Regions from separate parts of the Homo sapiens genome. Here region 1 is linked to region 2. The links come from fine-mapping of genetic effects on gene expression. A gene starts in region 2. The other region holds a variant in brackets. All regions are shown on one strand. Distances are between the middles of the regions.

Region 1 (12,936 bases), 67 kb before region 2:
TGTACCCATTTTCAAAAGAAAAATTCAGGTAATATTTTAAAAGACTCCTGGGGGACACAAATTTAGTAATAAGTATCAAAAGTCTTCAAAAAAAAAAAAAAAGGAAAGGCTTTCGATTCAGTAAAACCATTTTTAGAAATTATTTTTTAAAATACTCTGAAATATATTCACTGAAGTGGTTTTTTGTTTTGTTTCGTTTTTGTTTTTGTTTTTGTTCTGAGATAGAGTCTCACTCTTTCGGCCAGGCTGGAGTGCAGTGGCGCGATCTGGGCTCACTGCAAACTTCGCCTCCTGGGTTCAAACAATTCTTGTGCTTCAGCCTCCTGAGTAGCTGGGGCTACAGGCACATGTCACCACACCCGGCTAATTTTTGTATTTTTAGTAGAGACAGGGTTTCACCACATTGGCCAGGCTGGTTTCGAACTCCTGGCCTTAAGTGATCCACCTGCTTTGGCCTCCCAAGGTGCTGAGATTACAGGCGTGAGCCACCACACCTGGCCTGAAGTATTCTTTACAACAGCAAAAAGTTGCAAATAACCTAAATGTCCACCAATATTTTTAGTTTAATAAATTATAGCATGTTTATTCAATGAAATACTATGCAACTTTTAAATCACATAGCTTACTATATACTGACATGAGAAGATATATTACCAATGGAAAAAAAATCAAGGCATAAAATAGTATGCATAGTATGATTCAATTTAAACAAACTATATTTATAAAGGTATATATTTACAGAAAGTTCAGCTATGCACCAAAATATGGGATACTTGGTTAATCTTCTTTAACTTTTGCTGTATTTTAAAAATGTATTATAAGGAGCATATGCTATTTTTATAATTGCAAAAACCATATGCTGTGCTTAAAAGACTGCTGCATCTGCAAGGGAACTTACAGACAGCTAAGAAACATTTTAAGCGACATACAGATGGTCCCCAATTTAGGATGGTTTGAGATAGTTTTTCGACTTTACAATGGTGTGAAAGCGACATGCATTCAATACAAACCATACTTCAAATTCTGGATTTTGATCTTTTCCCAGGCTCGCAATATGTAATAAGATACTCTCTCAACAATCCTCTGCAGCGGCAGCCAGCCACAGCTCCCAATCAGTCACATGATCATGCGAGTAAATAACTGATACTCTAGAGCAGGGTTCCCCAACCCCCAGGTCTTGGACTGGTACTGGTCCATGGCCTGTTAGGAACCAGGCTGCACAGAAGGTTAGCAGCAGGCACGAGCAAGCATTACCGCCTGAGCTCCACCTCGTCAGATCAGCAGCGGCAACAGACTGTCACAGAACCGCGAACCCTATTGTGAACTGCACACGCGAGGGATCCAGGTTGGCCGCTCTTTATGATAATCTAATGCCTGATGATCTGAGGTGGTACAGTTTCATCCCAAAACCATCCCCCACCCTCTTCCCTCCCCAGTCCATGGAAAAATTGTCTTCCACGAAACTGGTCCCTAGTGCCAAAAAGATTGGGGATTGATGCTCTAGAGTATACTGTATTTCCAGTTGACTCTGCCCAATTGTAGGCTAATGTTAAGTGTTCCGAGTATGTTTAAGGTAGGCTAGGCTGAACTATAATATTCAGTAGGTTAGGTATATTATTTTTGATTTACAATATTTTCAACTAACGTGGGTTTATCAGGACATAACCCTATCATAAGTCAAGGATCATCTGTACATGAAAGACTGTAAGAATAACTGTATATACAAAGAGTATAACAGTTTTAGAAGTAGTGATTGTTATAATTTCATTGATAACTTTAATCTTTAGTACCCAACAAGGTATATATACAACAATTTAGTCCTATACCTCAGCTCAATTCAGTAGGTTCTAGGCACGTATTATTTACTAAATGATTTAACTGTAAGTAGCTGGACTTTTCAGAACCAAAAGTTAAATTCTAGCATAAACTGAAACAAAAACACATTCTTCTTTTTCTCTTTTCTTGAAAAGGTAATTCCTACATATGGGGACAAAAGAAAGAATGAAATTCTTTCCCTCCCACCCTATTCTCCAGTTCTCTTTCCCAGGGGACTGTTACCACCTGTCCATCCAGAGGTACTCTACATATATATCAACATTTCCTTTTAAAATTATTTTTATTATTTATTTATTTATTATACTGTAAGTTCTGGGATACATGTGTAGAATGTGCAGGTTTGTTACATAGGTATACATGTGCCATAGTGGTTTGCTGCACCCATCAACCTGTCATCTACATTAGGTGTTTCTCCTAATGCTATCCCTCCCCTTGCCCCCACCCCCCGACAGGCCCTGGTGTGTGATGTTCCCCTCCCTGTGTCCATGTGTTCTCATTGTTCAACTCCCACTTATAAGTGAGTACATGCAGTGTTTGGTTTTCTGTTCCTGTGTTAGTTTGCTGAAAATGATGGTTTCCAGCTTCATCCGTGTCCCTGCAAAGGACACGAACGCATCCTTTTTTATGGCTGTGTAGTATTCCATGGTGTATATGTGCCACATTTTCTTTATCCAGTCTATCATTGATGGGCATTTGGGTTGGTTCCAAGTCTTTTCTATTATGAATAGTGCTGCAATAAACATATGTGTGTGTGTGTCTTTATAGTAGAACAATTTATAATCCTTTGGGTATATACCCAGTAATGGGATTGCTAGGTCAAATGGTATTTCTGGTTCTAGACCCTTGAGGAATCACCACACTGTCTTCCACAATGGTTGAACTAATTTATACACCCACCAACAGTGTAAAAGCATTCCTATTTCTCCACATCTTCTCCAGCATCTGTTGTTTCCTGACTTTTTAATGATCGCCATTCTAACTGGCATGAGATGGTATCTCATTGTGGTTTTGATTTGCATTTCTCTAATGACCAGTGATGATGAGCTTTTTTTCATATGTTTGTTGGCCACATAAATGTCTTCTTTTGAGAAGTGTCTGTTCATATACTTTGCCCACTTTTTGATGAGATTTTTTTTTCTTGTGAATTTGTTTAAGTTCCTTGTAAATTCTGGATATTAGCCCTTTGCCAGAAGGATAGAGTGCAAAAATTTTCTCCCATTCTGTAGATTGCCTGTTCACTCTGATGATAGTTTCTTTTGCTGTGCATAAGTTCTTTAGTTTAATTAGATCCCATTTGTCAATTTTGGCTTTTGTTGCCATTGCTTTTGGTGTTTTAGTCATGAAGTCTTTGCCCATGCCTATGTCCTGAATGGTATTGCCTAGATTTTCTCCTAGGGTTTTTATGGTTTTAGGTCTTACATTAAAGTCTTCAATCCACCTTGAGTTAATTTTTGTATAAGATTTACGTAAGGAAGAGGTCCAGTTTCAGTTTTCTGCATATGGCTAGCCCGTTTTCCCAACACCATTTATTAAATAGGGAATCCTTTCTCCATTGCTTGTTTTTGTCAGGTTTGTCAAAGATCAGATGGTTGTAGATGTGTGGCATTATTTCTGGGGCCTCTGCTATGTTCCTTTGGTCTACGTATCTGTTTTGGTACCAGTACCATGCTGCTTTGGTTACTGTAGCCTCGTAGCATAGTTTGAAGCCAGGCAGTGTGATGACTCCAGCTTTGTTCTCTTTGCTTTGGATTGTCTTGGCAATATGGGCTTTTTTTTCAGTTCCATATGAAATTTAAAGTAGGTTTTTCTAATTCTGTGAAGAAAGTCAATGGTAGCTTGATAGGGATAGCATTGAATCCATAAATTACTCTGGGCAGTACAGCCATTTTCACGATATTGATTCTTCCTATCCATGAGTATGGAATGTTTTTCCATTTGTTAGTGTCCTCTCTTATTTCCTTGAGCAGTGGTTTGTAGTTCTCCGTGAAGAGGTCCTTCACATCCCTTGTAAGTTGTATTCCTAGGTATTTTATTCTCTTTGTAGCAATGGTGAATCAGAGTTCACTCATGATTTGGCTATTTGTCTATTATGGATGTATAGGAAGCTTGTAATTTTTGCACACTGATTTTGTATCCTGAGACTTTGCTGAAGTTGCTTATCAGCTTAAGGAGATTTTGGGCTGAAACGATGGGGTTTTCTAAATATACAATCATGTCATCTGCAAACAGAGACAATTTGACTTCCTCTCTTCCTGTGTGAATACCCTTTATTTCTTTCCCTTGCCTGATTGCCCTGGCAAGAACTTCCAATACTGTGTTGAATAGGCGTGGTGAGAGAGGGCATCCTTGTCATGTGCCAGTTTTCAAAGGAAATGCTTCCAGCTTTTGCTCATTCAGTATGACATTGGCAGTGGGTTTGTCATAAATAGCTCTTATTATTTTGAGATAAGTTCCATCAATATCTAGTTTACTAAGACTTTTTAGCATGAAGGGGTGTTGAATTTTATCGAAGGCCTTTTCTGCATCTATTGAGATAATCATGTGGTTTTTGTCATTGGTTCTGTTTATGTGATGGATTACATTTATTGATTTGTGTATGTTGAACCAGCCTTGCATCCCAGGGATGAAGCTGACTTGATTGTGGTAGATAAGCTTTTGGATGTGCTGCTGGATTCAGTTTGCCAGTATTTTATTGGGGATTTTCACATTGATGTTCATCAGGGGTATTAGCCTGAAATTTTCTTTTTTTGTTGTGTTTCTGCCAGGTTTTGGTATCAGGATGATGCTGGCCTCATAAAATGAGTTAGGGAGGAGTCCCTCTTTTTCTATTGCTTGGAATAGTTTCAGAAGGAATGGTACCAGCTCCTCTTGGTACCTCTGGTAGAAATCAGCTGTGAATCCATCTGATCCTGGGCTTTTTTTTGGTTAGCAGGCTATTAATTACTGCCTCAATTTTGGAACTTGTTATTGGTCTATTCAGGGATTCCACTTCTTCCTGATTTAGTCTTGGGAGGGTGTATGTGTCCAGCAATTTATCCATTTCTTCTAGATTTTCTAGTTTATTTGTGTACAGGTATTTATAGTATTCTCTGATGGTAGTTTGTATTTCTGTGGGATCGGTGGTGATCTCCCCCTTTACATTTTTACTGTGTCTATTTGATTCTTCTCTCTTTTCTTCTTTATTAGTTGGGCTAGCAGTCTACCTATTTTGTTAATCTTTTCAAAAAACCAGCTCCTGGATTTACTGATTTTTTTGAAGGATTTTTTTTGTGTCTCTATCTCCTTCAGTTCTGCTCTGATCTTAGTTATTTCTTGCCTTCTGCTAGCTTTTGAATTTGTTTGCTCTTGCTTCTCTAATTCTTTTAATTGTGATGTTAGGGTGTCGATTTTAGATCTTTCCTGCTTTCTCCTGTGGGCATTTAGTGCTATAAATTTCCCTCTAAACACTGCTTTAGCTGTGTCCCAAAGATTCTGGTATGTTGTATCTCTGTTCTCATTGGTTTCAAAGAACTTATTTATTTCTGCCTTAATTTCGTTATTTACTCAGTAGTCATTAAGAAGCAGGTTGTTCAGTTTCCAGATAGTTATGCAGTTTTGAGTGAGTTTCTTAATCCTGATTTCTAATTTGATTGCACTGTGGTCTGAGAGACTGTTTATGATTTCCATTCTTCTGCATTTGCCAAGGAGTGTTTTACATCCAATTATGTGGTCAATTTTAGAATAAGTACGATGTGGTCCTGAGAAGAATATATATTCTGTTGATTTGGGATGGAGAGGTCTGTAGATGTCTATTAGGTCTGCTTGGTCCAGGGCTGAGTTCAAGTCCTGAATATCCTTGTTCATTTTCTGTCTCGTTGATCTAATATTGAC[A/T]GTGGGGTGTTAAAGTCTCCCACTATTATTGTGTGGGAGTCTTTATCTCTTTATATGTCTCTAAGAACTTGTTTTATGAATCTGAGTGCTCCTGTATTGGGTGCATATATATTTAGGATAGTTAGCTCTTCTTGTTGCATTAATACCTTTACCGTTATGTAATGCCCTTCTTTATCTCTTTTCATCTTTGTTGGTTTTAAGTCTGTTTTATCAGAGAGTAGGATTGCAACCCCTGCTTTTTTTTTGCTTTCCAGTTACTTAGTAAATATGCCTCCATCCCTTTATTTTAAGCCTATGTGTCTTTACACGTGAGATGGGTCTCCTGAATACAGCACACCGATGGGTCTTGACTCTTTATCCAATTTGCCAGTCTGTGTCTTTTAATTGGGGGCATTTATCCCATTTACATTTAAGGTTAATATTGTTATGTGTGAATTTGATCCTGTCATTATGATGCTAGCTGGCTATTTTGCTATTAGGTTATGCAGTCTCTTCATAGTGTCATTAGTCTTTACAATTTGGTATGTTTTTGCAGTAGCTGGTACCAGTCTTTCCTTTCCATGTTTAGTGCTTCCTTCAGGAACTCTTAAAAGGCAGGGCTGGCGGTGACAAAATCTCTCGGCATTTGTCTGTCTGTAAAGGATTTTATTTCTCCTTCGCTTATGAAGCTTAGTTTGGCTGGATATGAAATTCTAGGTTGAAAATTCTTGTCTTTAAGAATGTTGAATATTGGCCCCCACTCTCTTCTGGTTTGTAGGGTTTCTGCAGAGTGATCCACCGTTAGTCTGCTGGGCTTCCCTTTGTGGGTAACCCAACCTTTCTCTCTGGCCGCCCTTAACATTTTTTCCTTCATTTCAACCTTGGTCAATCTGATGATTATGTGTCTTGGGGTTGCTCTTCTCGAGGAGTATCTTTGTGGTGTTTTCTGTGTTTTCTGAATTTGAATGTTGGCCTGTCTTGCTGGGTTGGGGAAGTTCTCCTGGATAATATCCTGAAAAGTGTTTTCCAACTTGGTTCCATTCTCCCTATCACTTTCCAGTACACCAATCAAACGTAGGTTTGGTCTTTTCACATAGTCCCATATTTCTTGGAGGCTTTGTTCATTCCTTTTCAGTCTTTTTTCAGTAATCTTGTCTTCATGCTTTATTTCATTAAGTTTATCTTCAATCTCTGATATCTTGTCTTCTGCTTGATCGATTCGGCTATTGATACTTATGTACGCTTTACCAAGTTCTCCTGCTGTGTTTTTCAGCTCCATCAGGTCATTTATGTTCTTCTCTAAACTGGTTTTTCTAGTTAGCAATTCCTCTAACCTTTTATCAAGGTTCTTGGCTTCCTTGCGTTGGGTTAGAACATGCTCCTTTAACTCGGAGGAGTTTGTTATTACCAACCTTCTGAAGCCTACTTCTGTCAATTTGTCAAACTCATTCTTTGTCCAGTTTTGCTCCCTTGCTGGCGAGGAGTTGTGATCTTTTGGAGGACAAGAGGCATTCTGGTTTTTGGAATTTTCAGCCTTTTTGCACTAGTTTTTCCTCATCTTTGTGGATTTATCTACCTTTGGTCTTTGATGTTGGTAACCTTTGGATGGGGTTTTTGCATGGATGTCCTTTTGTTGATGTTGATGTATTCCTTTCTGTTTGTTAGTTTTCCTTCTAGCAGTCAGGCCCCGCTACTGCAGGTCTGCTGGAGTTTGCTGGAGGTCCACTGCTGACCCTGTTTGCCTGGGCATCATCAGTGGAGGCTGCAAAACAGCAAAGATTTCTGCCTGTTCCTTCCTCTGGAAGCTTCATCCCAGAAGGGCACCTGCCAGATGCCAGCTGGAGCTCTCCTGTATGAGGTGTCTGTAGACCCCTGCTGGGAGGTGTCTCCCAGTCAGGAGGCATGGGAGTCAGGGATCCACCTGAGGAGGCAGTCTGTCCCTTAGCAGAGCTCAAGCGCTGCGCTGGGAAATCTGCTGCTCTCTTCAGAGTCGGCAGGCAGGAACGTTTAAGCCGCTGAAGCTGTGCCCACAGCCGCCTCTTTCCCTAGGTTCTCTGTCCCAGGGAGATGGGAGTTTTATCTACAAGCCCCTGACTGGGGCTGCTGCCTCTCTTTCAGAGATGCTTTGCCCAGAGAGGAGGAATCTAGAGAGGCAGTCTAGCTACAGCAGCTTGGCGGAGCTGCAGTGGGCTCGGCCCAGTCCGAACTTCCTGGTGGCTTTGTTTACACTGTGAGGGGAAAACTGCCTACTCAAGCCTCAGTAATAGCAGACACCCTGCCCCCCACCAAGCTCGAGTGTCCCAGGTTGACCTCAGACTGCTGTGCTGGCAGCGACAATTTCAAGCCAGTGGATCTTGGCTTGCTGGGCTCCGTGGGGGTGGGATCTGCTGGGCTAGACCACTTGGCTCCCTGGCTTCTGCCCCCTTTCCAGGGGAGTGAATGGTTCTGTGTTGTTGGAGTTCCAGGTGCCACTGGAGTATGAAGAAACACTCCTGCAGCTAGTTTGGTGTCTGCCCAAATGGCCACCCAGTTTTGTGCTTGAATCCCAGGGCCCTGGTGGTGTAGGCACCCAAGGCAATCTCCTGGTCTGTGGGTTGCAAAGATGGTGGGAAAAGCGTAGTATCTGGGCTGGAGAGCACCATTCCTCACAGCACAGTCTCTCGTGGCTTCCCTTGGCTAGGAGAGGGAGTTCTCCAATCCCCTGCACTTCCCGGGTGAGGCAACACCCCACCTTGCTTCAGCTCACCCTTCATGGGCTGCACTCACTGTCCAACCAGTTCCAGTGAGATGAGCCGGGTACCCAATGCAGAAATCACCCGCCTTCTGCGTTGATCCCGCTCGGAGCTGCAGACCGGAGCTGTTCGTATTCGGCCATCTTACCAGCCACCATATATCAACATTTCTTATTGAGGCAAAACAAATCAACTCAACCTCACCACCAAGTTTGTAAAAACTTCAGAACTTCCAAGGATTAAATGTCAATACTGTTGCCACAGAGGCTTTGACAGGTGGTAACAAGTAGCAGCTAACAGCCTTTCCTTCCCAAATGAGGTACATTATAAGTAGTATAAACATTGATGTAATTTTTCTTAAGTGGTCTCTTTAATTTGGAAGTCTTTGTTCCACTTCTTTGCTTCTCCTCTCACCTACCACAATGACTATCCTTTCTTCTTGGCACACAGAGGTAGGCTGTGTCAGCTGGAATAGCTCCACTCATCAAATTGAAATAATCACTTAGGAAGTCTTTAAACATACACATTTGTGCAAGTTTACAAAATCAAAAATTTTCTCTAAGCAAACAATTACTACTAATACGGACTGTCATTTTCTTTGAATAAAACCTATGCCCTCCAACAAGTGCTCTGAGTTGAATACAGCCTCTTAGTGTGTGCAGTCTCCAAAAAATATAACATTTCCAAAAATTGAATTTCCAGACTTTGCCTTATCCAAGCTGTTTTTAAGTTATACCTCTTTCCCTTGCTTCTTCCGACCCTTTGGACAGTTTAAAGATTATTATAAAGTCTATAATAGCGTATTACAAATTTCAGTTTCACAACATTAAGTTCATTTAGTTATTTTTTTCTAAAAGGTGGTTGAAAGCACTTAGTAACTAAGGCAAAATATGAAACAGTAAATGACTGGACTGACTGCACTGGCTCCCTTCATCTTAAATATATGTGTGTATGCATGTATGTGTGTGTGTACCTAAGATTCCAGAAGAAAATGGGTTACCTTTTGTTGATGCTGAATTCTCTCTTCTTCAAGTTGCTGGGTGAGTTTTGCATTTTCGTCTAAAGCTTTCAAAAGCTGCTGATCAGGGATGGAGCTCTGCAGCAGAAGGTGGCTTTGTCTCTTTAGCTTGTTTTGCTCAATGAACATCTGCAAAAGTTTGTTACAAGAATGTATATATCAATCAATCTCACATACCTCCTCAACTGTAACTTCAGCAAAAGAAAAGTACATGGAATTTTTATTAAATCATTAAAGGCAAATTCTGACTTCTATAAGTTTTAGAAGTAGTGATTGCTATGATTTCATTCCTTTTATATAATCTTTAATACCTTTACTCCTGCCCCAACAAGATATTTATACAATAAGCTGGTCTTACTCTTCAGTTTTTAATATTTTATTATTGCTTTAAGATACATTAATATTAATAGTAGTAGCTAATATTTCTCAAGAATTTACCTTGTGTACTCCACTAAATATTTTATATGGATTATTTTAATCCTTACATCAATCCTATTAAAGTGCTTCTACTATGAATAGGTAACATTTACTAAACACTATGTGATAGATATGGTGGGAATCATTTTACATTCATTATATCATATAATCCTTAAAACAACACTATCAAGTAGACACTACTATCATCTAATTTTACTAATAAGGTAACTGAGGCTCAAAGAAGTTAAGCAACTTTCCCAAGAACACACGTAAGTGACAAGACCAGGACTTAAACCCATATCTGATTTACATGCCCAAGCTCTTAACCATCTGGCTAAGTTCCTCTACTATTTGCTAGATCTAATGTTTTGTTTTAAACTAATTAGTTTCTCCCTAGTGATAAAAGTAGTTAACAGTAGAAGGGTAAAGGGGAGAAGGGAGACAGTATATTTTATTGAGCACTGTATTAAGCAATTTATATGTTATTCATCAAATCCTCACAACTTTACATGATTGAAAATAATATTGATTTCTATTTACCTGTTATTTCTTTTCCTTAACACTCTACCCAATTTGGCCAGTGAGTGATTCCAAGTATGAAATGTTTTTGTAAACTCTGAAATCTGGCCTACCAATTTTATAATAGAGCTTCACCTTTTCAGATTTTTAACAGCATTTTAAAATTTACATTATAACTTAACTGAAAGCTCTGAACTGCAAAATGATTTGCTAAAGCCCTCATATTAGTTTGTTCAACAACTTCACCCATCATGTAACAGAAAAAGTCAGCAAATAAAACTCAGGACAAAAATATTTTCCATCAACCTCCATGTGGCAAGACCACAGCTTTAATGATTTATACAATCCTTAAGCTCTTGATCAGTATCGACTTCCACATCAAAGTCAAGTCATGAATACAGTATACTAAAACACTAACATTTTCTTCCCAGTATGTCTTCCTATGAAAGGGAAAAAAAGGTCAGAAGCTTTCCTTCTTTGCCTAGGGATTTATGAAAAGCCTACAAAACTACGACAGGGTTCTTCTGCAGAATTAAAACACATTACAAAGTCAAACAGGTAAATAAACAATTGCATATACATGAAACCCACATTCTTCTTCCATTTGTGTGAGAGTGAGAGGTATAGAGACTGCAGTGAGGAAGAGTATGTGCATGTACACTTGGCTGGAGAAGGGTGAGATGCAGCTTCAGCATTCTAAGAAAGAGTAATCAATATTTCATCACAGTATCTTAAACTTCAGACCAGTGATTTAATTAAAATGAATTGTTTTGGGTGACCATTATGATTACAGTAATTTTTTTTTTTTTTTGAGATGGAGTCTCGCTCTGGCACCCAGGCTGGAGTGCAGTGGCACAATCTCGGCTCACTGCAACCTCTGCCTCTCAGGTTCAAGTGATTCTCGTGCCTCAGCCTCCCAAGTAGCTGGGACTACAGGTGCCTGCCACCATGCCTGGCTAATCTGTGTATTTTTAGTAGAGATGGGGTTTCACTATGTTGGCCAGGTTGGTCTTGAACTCCTGGCCTCAATTGATCCCCCCGCCTCGGCCTCCCAAAGTGCTTGGATTACAGACGTGAGCCACCATGCCTGGTCAAAAAATTTAATTATGTTGAAGAAATTTAAAATTTTAATATAGTTATGAAGACAACTGATAGTTTTCTTGTTGAGGGGGATTAAGTTTTTGGTTTTGTTTTTTAAATGAACTAGCGGGAGTTAAGAATGGGGGGTAACTTTCAATTTTTATTTTATACATTTAGAAAATATTTGTATCTTTGTGCAAGGCACACATACTCCTTTTTAATTAAAAATATAAAGTAAATTAACCTTAAAAATTGATTTCTAAGGCTCTAGACTATAAGCTCCAAGAGGGTAGGGCTCACATTTGCTTTCTTCACCACTGGATTCCCAATGTCAGCACAGTGTCTGGCACAGTAAGATGTTTGCTGCATGCCCTAAGTGGTAAGTAAAATGCAAAAGAATGGGACTCTGTTGTTAAACTAAGTTATGTGTCTTTGTGCAGTACTTACCTGTTGAAAACCTGAGAATGCATAAACTTTGTAAAAAGGAAAATATACTAGTTCCAACGTGGTGCTATTTTTTAAAAAAAAGTTTTCTTCTCACTATTGTGTAGATTGAATCTAGATATTGTAAAATTGTTGAGTGCCACTGCAAATATTTATGCTGCCAATAACGTAAGTACCATTGCTCTTGCTTTCTTTCTCTCCTCAAACTTCTACCTTCTCATTCTGGGTTAACATGTCAGCATTATTGTTTCCACCAACCACTAAGACTGAAGACCAGGTGAACAGCAGAGTCAATCATTCATTTTTGTCTTCTTACTGCAACCTTGCTTCTTCCATCTGTCTTCTCTGCTACCACATGGCCTTCAAGTTTTTCTTTGAGCTGCTTTGTATTCTAACATCATTGTGCAAACAACAGATGGAAAACTGAACATGTCTTGAAATGAGACCTGCTATTCAGGTCAAAATCAGCCGACCTTTCCAGTTTTGCAATAAAGGCATCTTCACATTATCCCTGCTTCCCCTCCCCCTCCACTGTTTATTTCACTGCATTATTTATATTGCTCCAACGTTTTCCAGAGAGCTCTGACACACTTCAATTCTTTTTTCTTTCTTCCAAGTAATAAGAGAAAAATATTTACTCACCTTTCATTAAACTCTCTAAATAAAACGAATCATAATATTTCAAATCAGATCTACTTGGCCTAAACCTTCGGTAGAGTTCACTGCTAGCACAGCTATGCTCAAGCACAGAAAGACCCCCACAAAACCATCATTGGATTTTCAAATGTCATTCCCCTAATGCCATGCTTTGTCTTCCTTCTATGCCTTGGATACCTCTACCTAGGACTGTTTTACATTTCCTGAGCTATCTTCCTTCAACCTACAGTATGCACACAAATTCAAACTACACCCACAGGATGGAGATCTCATTGCAGACCAGCTTTTGAGTTTAGCCCATTGGTGAACTCCTCATCCCCCTGGATGAGCCCCAGGGCCATGGAAGACCCAACGACTGCATGTCAACAGGTAAGCCGGAACAAG
Region 2 (12,936 bases):
CTCTTATTGTGCCTAACTTATAAATTAAACTTTATCACAGATACGTATGCACAGGAAAAAACTTGGAATATATAGGGTTTGTTATTATCCATGATTTCAGGCACCTACTGCAGGTGTTGAAACATAGCTTCCTCCATGGGTAAGCAGGGACTACAGTATCTCCATCAATGTCAGCTTATCAGTTGGTGCATTTCCTTAGTTTCCACACTACAAGATGCCCTAGGCTCATCTTGTATATTTCCTGCCCCTTTCCTAAAATTAGCCATTTCTCCTAGGAACCCTGTTCGTTTTATTCGAGAATGGCATTAGAAGCCAAGTTCTGGGCTCTAGATGTGCTCATTGATACTGGTGCATCTAGGCTCTCTCAGCTGACAGAGCAAGAAAATATATGTATATACCAACATATATATATATGTGTAACCATCCATACCTGTATTAAGCTAAACATGAGTTCACACTGATGTCTCCAACATGAATCCAGTGCCAAAAGCATTTTCTTTTTAGAGAGATGGGGTCTCACTACATTGCCCAGGCTGGTATCAAACTCCTGGGCTCAAGGTATCCTCCTACCTTGGCCTCCCAAAGTGCTGGGATTATACGCGTGAGCCAACACAACCAGCCCAGAAGCATTATTTGTAATAGCAAAAACAAGGAAAGAAAGATAGAAATGTCCATCCAGAGGACATTAAATACATTGTGGTACGTCTGTACATTGGAACATTAATCAATTTTTAATGACAACGCTACATGTACTAATATAAAAAATTACATATTACATGATAAATACATATGCACATACAAACACAATTTCTGGAAGGAAAGAAAACAAAAGGTTAACAGTAGTTAACTTTGGGAAATGGGAATGGGGTCATAGCATGCATTGTCAATGTAGTGATTTCATCCTCAAGGAGATAAGAGAAAAGATCTTGGATATTACAATGGCTTATGGCCCTTCAAAGAGTCACAGTGCATAAAACGCCTAAAAAGTTTCCTTAGGAGAGTGATAATGAAATAAAGATTGAGAAACAATGGGTCAGATAGAATAGTTAATTGTACTTTTCACTTTACACACTTGTTTTCTATGAGCATGTGTTTATTTTTGCATTTATTTTAAAAAAGGTTCACAGCTGGGTGCGGTGGCTCACGCCTGTAATCCCAGCACTTTGGGAGGCCTAGGCGGGTGGATCACAAGGTCAGGAGTTCGAGACCAGCCTGACCAACATAGTGAAACCCCATCTCTACTAAAAATACAAAAATTAGCCGGGTGTGGTGGCACATGCCTGTAGTCCCAGCTACTTGGGAGGCTGAGGCGGAAGAATTGCTTGAACCTGGGAGGCGGAGGTTGCAGTGAGCCGAGACCACGCCATTGCACTCCAGCCTGGGTGACAGAGTGAGACTCTGTCTCAAATAAATAAATACATAAATAAATAAATAATATTAAGGAAATAGTGAAATTCTGACTAGAAGACATAGTTCCTTAGCCCACACTGCATGTTCATCTCATGGGGGGTTGCCAAACTGTTGTTCTTCAGCAACCACTCCCTAACTTTCAGAGGAAAATGCATTGTTGATAAGTACCTGGTGATTCAGATGCAGCTGGCCCTTGTACCACACTTTGAAAAATACTGATGTAAAACCAAGTTTGCACTTGAAAACAAGGCAACATTTAATTCCAAACAGCTTTCTACTGGCTGATCTCATATGCACCCAAGATTGTCAATGCTTCCGTTTTCCCAGACTGACGTGGTCATTGTGGTAGGCAATAGTTTCAGACTGTTTTGTCAAAATAATGCTCCAGTTATTTCCTGGCCTAGAAGCCAATGGAATACTGGATGCATCTTTTAATTACTAACTTGCTCTAAGAATAAGCTTGACTAGATTTCCATGTGAACTTAAGTATCATCTCAATAATCTTGGGGAAAACGATACTAACTCTAAAGGTGAAAAGAGGTTTAAAATTGCTTTAAAACCAATTACCTCACCATAGGAAATCCATTTTAAATACTGTTAGCCCAAAAATTGCCCATTATTGGGGTGGTGGTGGTTGTTTTCCTCTTATGTATGTCCTTATTATTAAATAGCCATCTCTCTTCAAAATTTCATCAACTTGGAAATGACATGGCATTACTACACTGAACAGTTTAGCAGACATGTGTTGTCTGTGTCTGCCCGGTCAGCATCCTCATGGTAGTGCACCCCATTCTGTTTTGGACTATTCCTCCAATCTTTGCAGGGGCTGCCAATTAAAGTATCCTGCCCTCCCGTGGCCAAAGTATTTGAATACATGAGATTGGCCAAACTAGGCCAATCAGACACTCCTCCTGGAATTTACATGCCTAGCACTATCTCTAGACCAGGAACTCCTCACCAGCAGAGGCAAGGTCTTATTCAGCTCTATCTCTCTGATGCCTAGCACAGTGCCTGGCTATGAATATTCAATGCATGTGGGCTGAATGAATTATACAGAAAATCATGCACCTTAAACAAATGCTGAACTAAGTCTATCATTTTCCCACTGAATTCCGGAGGGGGAGCAAATTGTATGATGTTTTGTAAGGGAAATATCCACTTTAGTAGCTAGGAAATATGCCTCGGAAATAGTATCCAAAGTTGCCATTTCTCGGTGCATTAAAGATGTCAATCAGTCCAATAAAATAAAGCCCCAAAAAAGACAAAAGGAGAATTACCTCATTACCTCAACATCTGCTTGAACATAAGCAATCACACACTGGCTAATTTTTTTTAAAGGGACATAATATAACTTTCTGGAAAGACATAATATAGCTAATTATACCATTCACTAGGAGGGAACATAAAATGTTTTGAAGTAATTCAGAAGTGGGTGTGATTTATAAGACATAGAGCTTAGGGAATGGTAAGTATAAATTAGAGATTGTTCATATTATGACAGACTCCGTCATTACATTTCACAACTTTTGTCAAAAGCAACCTTATTCACCACACCACTAAAGGCTTCACGTTAGGGAAGGCTGCTGTCAGCTTTGTGGTTTAGAGTAGACAGGAATCTCCTTTCTGAACACTCTCCTGGGGAACTGGTTCAAGTTTTAGACTTAAAACTTACTAAGGCAGGGCAAAATGAAGAGAGATTGTTTAATGGGTTCAAACATAGTTAGATACAAGGAGTAAGTTTTAACATTTTGATAGCAAAGTAGGGTGACTACAGTTAACAACAATGTATTATATATTTCAAAAGAGATAGAAGAGAGGACTTGAAATGTTCTCAACTCATTGAAATGATAAATACTGGAGGTAATGGATATCCCAAATACCCTGACTTGATCATTATGCATTCTAAGCATGTAACAAAATACCCCATGTCTTCTATAAATATGTACAAGTCTCATGTATCAGTTTAAAAAAAAATCACTAAGGAAGGACCCATATGATGAAACCTAAATGGCCAATGGCCATGTAAAAAGATTTCAAACATCACTAATAACCAGAGCAATGCAAATCTTAAAAGGTAACATTCTGCCCATTAGATTGGCAAAAATTCAAAAACTTGTCAGGCCATCAAATGAATAAAGATTGCTATTAGCCAGAGTTGACCAATGTGTGGGGAAATGGGTACTGCTGAAGGATATCTGAACTGGTATAATCATTTTGGAGGGCACTTTTGCAATGTCTAGCAAAAGTAAATGTCCGTGCCCTCTAATCCAACAATTCCATTTCTTCTAAGAATCTATCCTAGAATAAAAAAGTAATTGTACATTTATTCATATGATAACTTGAATAGTACCTGTCTTCTCTTCTAGAAAATTAATTTGGTGACAAGGACTGTGTAGTTCACTATTTACACCCCTAGTGCCTACCACATGGACCTGACATATGGTGGTACTTGATAAGTATTTGTTGAAGGAATGAATAAATATGTTTACTCAGCATTATTAAGGGAAAATAACATATTTGATAAATAGTGGTTCTTCTTGCTCACACTAAATAGGGGTAGTGGAATTATCACTCAGAATATTAACATTGTGAGTAAAAAGGTAGTAACAGGTAGTAAAAATTACTATTTTCAAAAATAAACCATGCAACCATCAGCTTACAAAATTGATCATAGTATGTACTGTTAAATGCTCAAAGACCCAGTTACCTGTTCTTCCAAATCCCTAGCTTCCCAATTAGTTCTACAGGTCAAACAGTAACTGAACACTTTTGAAGTAAATTGTTTCCACAGTCTGTGATCCAATGACAAGCAAACTACCTGGTTTTGAAATGTATAAAAATCACACTGTGGGCTGAAAAAATCCCAACACCTTTGTAACTAGACTCACTATCCCCAAAAGTGTACCTTTTAAGAAACACAACTTTGAATATCTAACTGTTCTATTACCTTTCATATGCACTTAATCAAGGAAATATATCCTCTAAAAATACCAATGCCAAGGATTTGTTTATTTTCCAATACAATGCAATAGGAGAAAGAGCCACAAATATAGAAATCCTTTTTGTCAGGCCTCAAACCCAACATAGGAATGGAGAATGTGTTCCGAAATCAAATATAAGCAATTTGCAGATTATCTACATTGTTAATCGACCCTTGATTATACAAGAAATGAAAGGGAAAATTTTTTTATGTTTATCATTATTCGAAAACTGACCAACCATAAGAAGATCTGATATCCACTGACAGATATTACCTATAATGAAAGCTCCACAAATCTAGAATATGAATCAAGTTTTAATGTTTTGGGTTGGGCGAAGGTGTATTAAATATAAAATACCAGTCAGTAGAATCCAGTCCCTCGCTAAAACACTTGAGAAACTTCAGATAAAGGCATTCTGTCCACCCACTAAATTCACTGATGCTTGTGACTTTATGACCTCAGGCTAATCTAGGATGCCAGGTAAAGGTGCTGGGAAGGCCAAAGAGACTAACATTTATCCAGCACTTTCTAGATGCTGGATATCACAGAAGAATGTGTTATGTCCATTTCAGAGGTTAAATAATTTCCCCAGGGTCACACAGTAAACAGTAATGTTGAAATTTGTTTGCCAGAGTGTGGCTTCAGAGGAATCCGGGAGCACTTCCCAACGGTGTCTGTGGTTTTACGCAACAACAGGTAAGAGTACTGGACAGGACCTCAGAAAGTCCTCCAGTTTCACCCTCGCCTTTAGTCAGGTCGGCCTTGATTGACCAGAAGATCCACGGAAGGAAAGAGACTCCTCCAAGTTCACAGAGCAGGTGAGCTGGGCCAAGAGAAGTGAAAGAGCTGCAACTAAATACCAGGTTTTGCCACAGAGCAGGGATCCTTCCATTACATGGTCTTGTCAGCAAGACATTCAGAAAAGTACATGTTCCTACACATTTTTACTTCCTTTAAATCTGTATGGTTCCTCCCTTTATTTCTTTATTATTTATTATTATTATTTTTTTTTGGAGATGGAGTTTCGTTCTTGTTGCCCAGGCTGGAGTGCAACGGCGCCATCTTGGCTCACCGCAACCTCCGCCTCCTGGCGATTCTCCTGCCTCAGCCTCCCGGGTAGCTGGGATTACAGGCATGCACCACCACGCCCGGCTAATTTTGTATTTTTAGTAGAGATAGGGGTTCTCCATGTTGGTTAGGCTGGTCTCGAACTCCTGACCTTAGGTGATCCACCTGCCTCGGCCTCCCAAATTGCTGAGATTACAGGCGTGAGCCACCGCACCCGGCTGGTTCCTCCCTGTCTTGACCCACATTCGCAGACCACCCTTTGGTCAGGGTAATAATGATAAGTGTTTAAATGTGATAGGTTAGCATTTGGTTGTTGATCTGGTTTGGTTCAGAAGTGTGGTAACTGATGAAAAAAATGATTGACTGAAGCAGGTCTTTATTAAAGGATAATCCCCAGTTACCAAGCAGTACAGAAATGCGTGCGCATGGCCTGGCTCTCCTTCGCCCAGCGTCAACCCTGTTAATTCTGAAAGCTCAACACTGGCAGGATGTTGACCTTGCTGACTAATAAACTGCTAAAATTGAGAAGTGATTAAAAAAAAAATTATGGCCTGAAAATCCCAGCTGGGCAAGGAAAGAGGAACTAGACCGAATCCAAACGAAAAGCTGGGAAGGGTGTGAAACAGCCCTACAGGCCACCCAGCGCCAACAAATGTGTAAGGGTGGGGCCAAGCTAGCTGAGCCGCCCAAAGCAGCCAAAATATCCTGCCCCACCCGCTTCTCCGGCAAGGAAGGTGGCACTGTGCAACCTCGTCCGCACTGAATCCTCGTCCCTTCCCCCAGCCCCCGATCGCCAGCAAACGCAACCAGCGGGCAGCGGGTCTCGAGCTGCGGGGCCTGACTAGCCCCGACACTCCGCGTTATCCTCGGTCCAGAGCTTTCCCAGGCGCGCCGGCCACGGAGGACGCTTCTCTGCGGGTGACGGAGCTACTGCGGTGACCACGGCGGCCGCCACGTCTCCCGCCCGGCTTCCAACTGCCCTGGCCCCAGCGCCCTGGGGCCGTCCCCGCCCACGGGCCGCGGCTGCCCACACCTGGCGCCCGCGTGCTGCCTACCTTGCTCCTTCAGACTGGTAATGAGCTGCAGCTGCTTCTCTTCGTCCGAGCTGTTCATTTTGGCGGGTGGGGCCGGGAATAAAAGGGAAAGAGGGAGCGGCGCGGGGCACACAGGAGGAGGGGGAAGAAAAAGCAAGATGCCGGTGGCTTGCGGCTCCACTACCCGGAAGTTGGATCCGCTCCCGCTCCTCCTCCTCCTGGCGCGGAGCGCGCGAGTGAGATCATCCCCACGCACCTACTCGGCGGCTGCGGCCGCTTCACCTGCAGGCGGGGCGGGGCGGGCCCAGCAGTCCCGTTCAGGGGGTGGAGGAACGAGGGCGGGTCGGCAGCCGCTATGCCAGCCTGTGGCTGCCGGCGCGGCAGGACGCGCTGGTGGGAGGGGGGGCGGCCCTGCGTGGGGTCGCTCCGCACCCTTTTCTCCGCCTCCACCTCCCGGACTCAGGGACGCGAGTTCAGAGAAAACCGGCTGTGGGTTCGCAGCGTGTGTGGGAACTCCACTTTGGACGCTTCCCGGGGGTCGCTCCCAAAGAACCACAGAGGTAGAGCGGGACGCAATGAGCCATGAACGCCTGGGCTTCTTCCCTAGTTTTCCCGCAGTAGACTCTGGGGGCGCGGTTGCAAAACCTAGCTGCCCACAGGGGCGGGCCCAGGGTGGTACATTTTGCACCTTGAAGAGGAGACAAGGATCGAATCAGGCCGCCCAGCTACTTAAATGACCATGCCGTGAGTGAAGGAGGGCCCTGGCTAGCTTTCCCCCATCGCACCAGGTTTGCCAGGTGGTCAGAACGTGGACCCTGCTGCACGTGGATGGTGGGGCCTGGAGGGCCCTTGCAGATCATCTGGTTGGTGGCGGGATGACCTTCCCTTTAGAGAGGGTGCCACTGCAGTCCGAATGCCGAAGGTCACGCAGCCCCCGGGCAGCAGAGGCTGGCAGTTAAGCCAAGCGTTTGTCCCAGTTCACTGCCCTCTGAACTATTTGAACTCATGTCTGTGTTAGACCATGCCCAGGAGAGAAGTGGCAGGTCTGCATTGTTTCAAAGGTGCTTCTCCCCAACCCCTAGTTGCGAGCTAACCTTTGGTCAAGTCTCCTGCATCTTTGAACTTCATCTGAAGAATAGGAAGAATAGTGATACCTACTCTCAAGGAAGAGTTGTAAGGATTTAATAGAGGAAGATTAACAAAACACCAAGTCCAGAATTTATAATGCAGTTTTTTTTTGTTTTTTTTTTGTTTTTTTGTTTTTAATAAAGATTACAGGTCTGTGGCCGGGCACAGTGGCTCACGCCTGTAATCCCAGCACTTTGGGAGGCCAAGGCGGGCAGATCACGAGGTCAGGAGATCGAGACCATCCTGGCTAACACGGTGAAACCCCGTCTCTACTAAAAATACAAAAAATTAGCCGGGCGTGGTGGCAGGCGCCTGTAGTCCCACCTACTCGGGAAGCTGAGGCAGGAGAATGGCGTGAACCCGGGAGGCGGAGCTTGCAGTGAGCCGAGATCGCGCCACTGCACTCCAGCCTGGGTGACAGAGTGAGACTCCGTCTCAAAAAAAAAAAAAAAAAAAAATTACAGGTCTGTGAGAAAGGGGTTGTGGTTGCTGACTATAAGCTGAAGGTTGCAGTTCTTTTACACTGATCATTAAGCATGGGAGATAAGTCCAAACTGAATTAGACTTATTGCACAGCTTGGTTTTTCTCACTACCTCTAAGCTCTTAGTTTGGGTACAGCAACAGCACAGTGCTGCTCATTCCTCAATTGCTGTTTTATGGAAGTGCCCAGCTCCATTTCTTGTGTTCATTTCTCCATGATAGTTGTAGAGTGAGGTTGAGATATGGGTAAATCCTGTAACTAGTGTCTTTCTGATACTCACTACATGCTAACTAAAATTTTGAAAAAAAAAATGGTAGCACTGCTTTCTCTTTCTCTAAAATGGCAATATAGTACTTTAGCATGAGTGATTTAGGGGTAGAATGATCTAAAAGGGCAGCATAGTATTTTTTAATACAGTGTATTAAAATGTTTAAAGTTTAAAAATAATTTTGATATGGGATTGTATTATTCAGCCCTTTCCCTAGGTATGCGTAAGATAATTCAAGATAGTTGCAGATAGCTGCCATGAAGATCCCCAGGAGATAATAATAAAAAAATCCGGGAGATTTTAATGAAAAATAATGGACATTTAGCTTTTGTCCAGCAGTTGGGAAACCTGTTAAACCTGATGAGTCATCCTGACTCATTCTCTCTCACTCTACCAAATACAAGCAGAGTGCCCATTAAATATTTGGCTTAGTTCACAAAGTTCCATTTTTTTTTAATGGCTGATTTGTCTACTCCAATTATACAGTAGTTAGATAGTATTTCTGGAGTTTAAGAATGAGTTAATTATCAAATCTATAATCAAACTTTTGGTTCCATACTAAATCTGCGGCCTCTTGCAATTAATCCCATTTATCCTCCTTAAAATTAGAAAAGGCTCCTGAGCTGAGATTCTGCCACTGCACTGCAGCCTGGGTGACAGAGTGAGACTCCATCTCAAAAAAAAAAAAAAAAAAAAAAAAAACTCCTGAAATACAATATGGCATTCACTTGAGGACATGGTATGAATTATTAGGAGGGCTATTAGAGTCCTTATTGGGATTCAGTTCTCCCATTACACTATTGTTTATTTATATGATATGAATATTGATGGAAAGGATAGAAGTGATAAATTAGTTTTTGTTCCGTTTAATAATATACAGAGTGATGGCTATGGGAGGCCGAGGCGGGCAGATCACGAGGTCAGGAGATTGAGACCATCCTGGCTAACACGGTGAAACCCTGTCTCTACTAAAAATAAAAAAAGCTGGGTGTGGTGGCGGGCACCTGTAGTCCCAGCTACTCGGGAGGCTGAGGCAGGAGAATCACTTGAACCCGAGAGGCGAAGGTTGCAGTGAGCCGAGATCATGCCACTGCACTCCAGCCTGGGTGACAGAGCGAGACTCCATCTCAATAATAATAATATACATAGTGATTTATGTTGCAGGCATCACGTTGGAGTTACTATTGACCTCCAAATAACAGGTCATTTAAAACCCTTAAAAATGTGTGTGTTTACATATATATATACAAATATATACATAGAGATAAAGGACAGACTTTTAAAAAATGAATTGGAAGAATATGTGCCAAACTCAGGATAATGGCTGTCTCTAGGGATAGAAAGTAGGGGAACAGGACCAAGGTGTGGGGGTTGGAGTGTGAAAGTGCAGTGGTCAAGAAGGAGTTTCTCTTTAATCTTTATTTAATTTTTCAGGTAATTAAAGTAAAATCACATATGTCATCTTTTGAGGTATACAGATAAATAAGATTGAAATACAATGAGGAGAAGAAGGTTCACTGTCTTTGATCCACTAATTCTATATCAGGGAATCTATCCTAAAAGGCTTATGTACAGAGCTATTTAATGTAATGTTAATTATCATATGAAAATGGCAATATTGGAATATTATTTGGTAATAAAAATAAAGTACTGATATATGGTACAACACAGATGAAATTTGAAAACATTATACTCAGTGAAAACTTGATCAGAAAAGACCAGATATTGTATGATTGCACTTGTATAAAATGATCACAACAGGCAAATCCATAGAGGGAGAAAGTTGATTGGTGAGTATCTACTGAGGTGGGGTGAAAGTAGGGGAGGTCTGGGAGAAAACAGGGAATGGCTGCTGATAGGTGTGTGGTTAATTGTTGGGGTAATACAAATTTTCTAAAATTAATTGTGGTAATGGTTGTACAATTCTCTGAATATACTCAAAACTATAGAATTGGCCGGGCGCTGTGGCTCACGCCTGTAATCCCAGTACTCTGGGAGGCCAGGGCGGGTGGATCACCGGAGGTCAGGAGTTTGAGACCAGCCTGACCAATATGAAGAAACCCAATCTCTATTAAAAATATAAAAAATAAGCTGGGCGTGGTGGCACATGCCTGTAATCCCAGCTACTCAGGAGGCTGAGGCAGGAGAATCACTTGAACTCAGGAGGAGGAGGTTGCAATGAGCCGAGATCGTGCCATTGCACTCCAGCCTGGGCAACAAGAGCAAAATTCTGTCTCAAAAAAAAGAAAAGAAAAGAAAATATCAACCAAATATGCACAAAAGGAAAGGAGAAAGAAGTCAAAATGATTACCAAAAACATACACATTTTTTTAAAAACTAAGTATAAAATAAGGCAATAATGAAGCAAATGAAGAGCAAAAGAGCTATAAGACATATAGATAATACATAGCAAAATTGCAGAAATAAGTCATTTCTTATTAACTGTAACTTTAAATGAAGATGGCTTAAACTCTCCAAAAGGCAAACACTGGCAGGATGCAAAAAAAAGTATGATCTAACTATATGATGTCTACAAAATATTTATTTTAGATCCAAAGACAACAATAGATTTAAAGCAAAATGGTAGGAAAAAATTTAATTAGTAACCAAAAGAGAGTTGGGGTGGTTATATTAATATCAGACAAAACAGACTTTAAGTCAAAAACTGTTACAATAAACAAAAGTCTATATTCACAAAAGGGTTGATTCGGTAAGAATATATAATTACTATAAACATATATACAAGCTGGGCACGGTGGCTCAAGCCCGTAATCCCAGCACTTTGGGAGGCCGAGACGGGCAGATCACGAGGTCAGGAGATTGAGACCATCCTGGCTAACACTGTGAAACCCCGTCTCTACTAAAAATACAAAAAATTAGCCGGGCGTGGTGGCGGGCGCCTGTAGTCCCAGCTACTGGGAGGCTGAGGCAGGAGAATGGCATGAACCCGGAAGGCGGAGCTTGCAATGAGCCGAGATCGCGCCACTGCACTCCAGCCTGGGCGACAGAGTGAGACTGTCTCAAAAAAAAGGAAAAGAAAAAAAAAACTTATGGAATACCGTGAAGACAGTGCTCAGAGAGAAATTTATAGTTCTAATTACTACATTATAAAAGAAAGATACAAAATCAATAAGGTAACTGTACACCTTGAGAAAATAGACAAGCAAAATAAACCTAAAGTTAGCAGAAGGAATAAAATAATGAAGATTAGAGTGGAGATAAAATAAAAGACAATAGAAAAATAATAGAATTAATAAAAAGCTATTTCTTTGAAAGTATCAAAATTGACAATCCTTTCCCTAAATTAACGAAGAAAAAAAAGAAATATGAAAATCAGATATTAAAATGGGGACAGTAATACCAATGATTCAGAAATAAAAAGGATTCTAAGAGAATAATAAGAACAATTATATGTCAACAAATTAAATAACCTAGAAGAAATGGACAAATTCCCAGAAACACACAAGTCACCTAAACTAACTGAAAAAGAAAATTTCAGCAGAACTATTATAAGTAGAGTAATTCAGAAAGTATTAAAAAAAGAAAAGAAAAGAAAAGAAAGACACCCTTCAATGAAAATAAGTTCAGGCCCAGATGTCTTTCCTGGTGAATTCTATCAAACATTTAAAGAATTAACACCAGTCTTTCTCAAACTTTTCTAAAACACAAAAAAGGAGAGAACACTTCCTAACTCATTCTATGAGGCCAGCATTTCTGTGATACCAAAGCCAGATAAGGATATCACAAAGAAAAGAAATGTACACACCAATTTCTCTTATGAATATGGTTGCAAAAATCCTCAACAAAATACTAACAAACCAAATCCAACAACACATTAAAAGGATTATACACCACGACCAGGTAGTACTTATTCCAGGAATGCAAAAGTGGTTCAACATAAGAAAATCAATCAATGTAATATGTCACATTAATAGGAAAAAAACCAGGTGATCATCTCAATTGAGACAGAAAAGGCATTTGACAAAAGTCAGCATCGTTTCACCATAAAAACTCTTAGCAAACCAGTAATAGATGGAACATCCTCACCATGATAAAGGGCATCTGTAAAGAAGCCACAGCTATAATCATGGTCAATGGTGAAAGACTGAAAGCTTTCCCCCTGAAATTAGGAACGAGACAAGAATATGTGCTTTCATCACTGCTATTCAACAGTGTGCTGCAAGTTCAATTAGACAAGAAAAAGAAAGAAAAGGCATCCAAGTTGGAAAGGAGGACGTAAAGCTATCTCTATTCACATATGACATATAGCTATATAGAGAAAATCCCAAATAATCTGTGAAAAAGCTACTAGAGCTAATAGATGAATTCAGTAGTTTTAGCTGAATTTAGCTCTTAAGTTTAGGTCTTTGGTCCATTTTTAGTTAATTTTTGTTAGGCCTTTTCTACCTTCATACCAACTTCAGTCTTTTGCATGTGGATATCTACTTTTCCCAATACCACTTGTTAAATGGCTGTCCTTTCCCCATTGAGTGGTCTTGGTACCCTTGTTGAAAATCAACTGGTGATATACATGAGGATTTATTTTGGGGCTCTCTATTTTATTC

Direction of the effects. Positions count from the first base shown, and alleles are read on the strand shown. Sizes are in standard deviations (SD) of each study's normalised expression.
With allele T in place of A in region 1, the expression in fibroblasts of the gene that starts at base 6,680 in region 2 is higher (small effect, 0.38 SD a copy in GTEx).

The links. PIP is the estimated chance that this variant, and not a neighbour inherited with it, causes the effect. A credible set is the group of variants that fine-mapping cannot tell apart.
Region 1: its variant is the best candidate, but not a certain one, in a credible set for the expression of SHTN1 in fibroblasts (GTEx, PIP 0.61).

The regions. Positions count from the first base shown.
Region 1 is chr10:116,931,049-116,943,984 of GRCh38, forward strand. It overlaps SHTN1 (shootin 1), which reads right to left. Exons shown (of 17, transcript NM_001127211.3): 9 at 9,418-9,564. Among named protein-coding and RNA genes, the nearest start is that of SHTN1, 68 kb to the right of the region's middle. The variant A/T (reference allele first, on the strand shown) is at 5,707.
Region 2 is chr10:116,998,508-117,011,443 of GRCh38, forward strand. SHTN1 (shootin 1) reads right to left here and starts at 6,680. Exons shown (of 17, transcript NM_001127211.3): 1 at 6,515-6,680. The coding sequence starts at 6,572. RefSeq lists an enhancer at 5,763-6,456 and silencers at 6,271-6,565, 6,437-6,546, 6,777-6,856.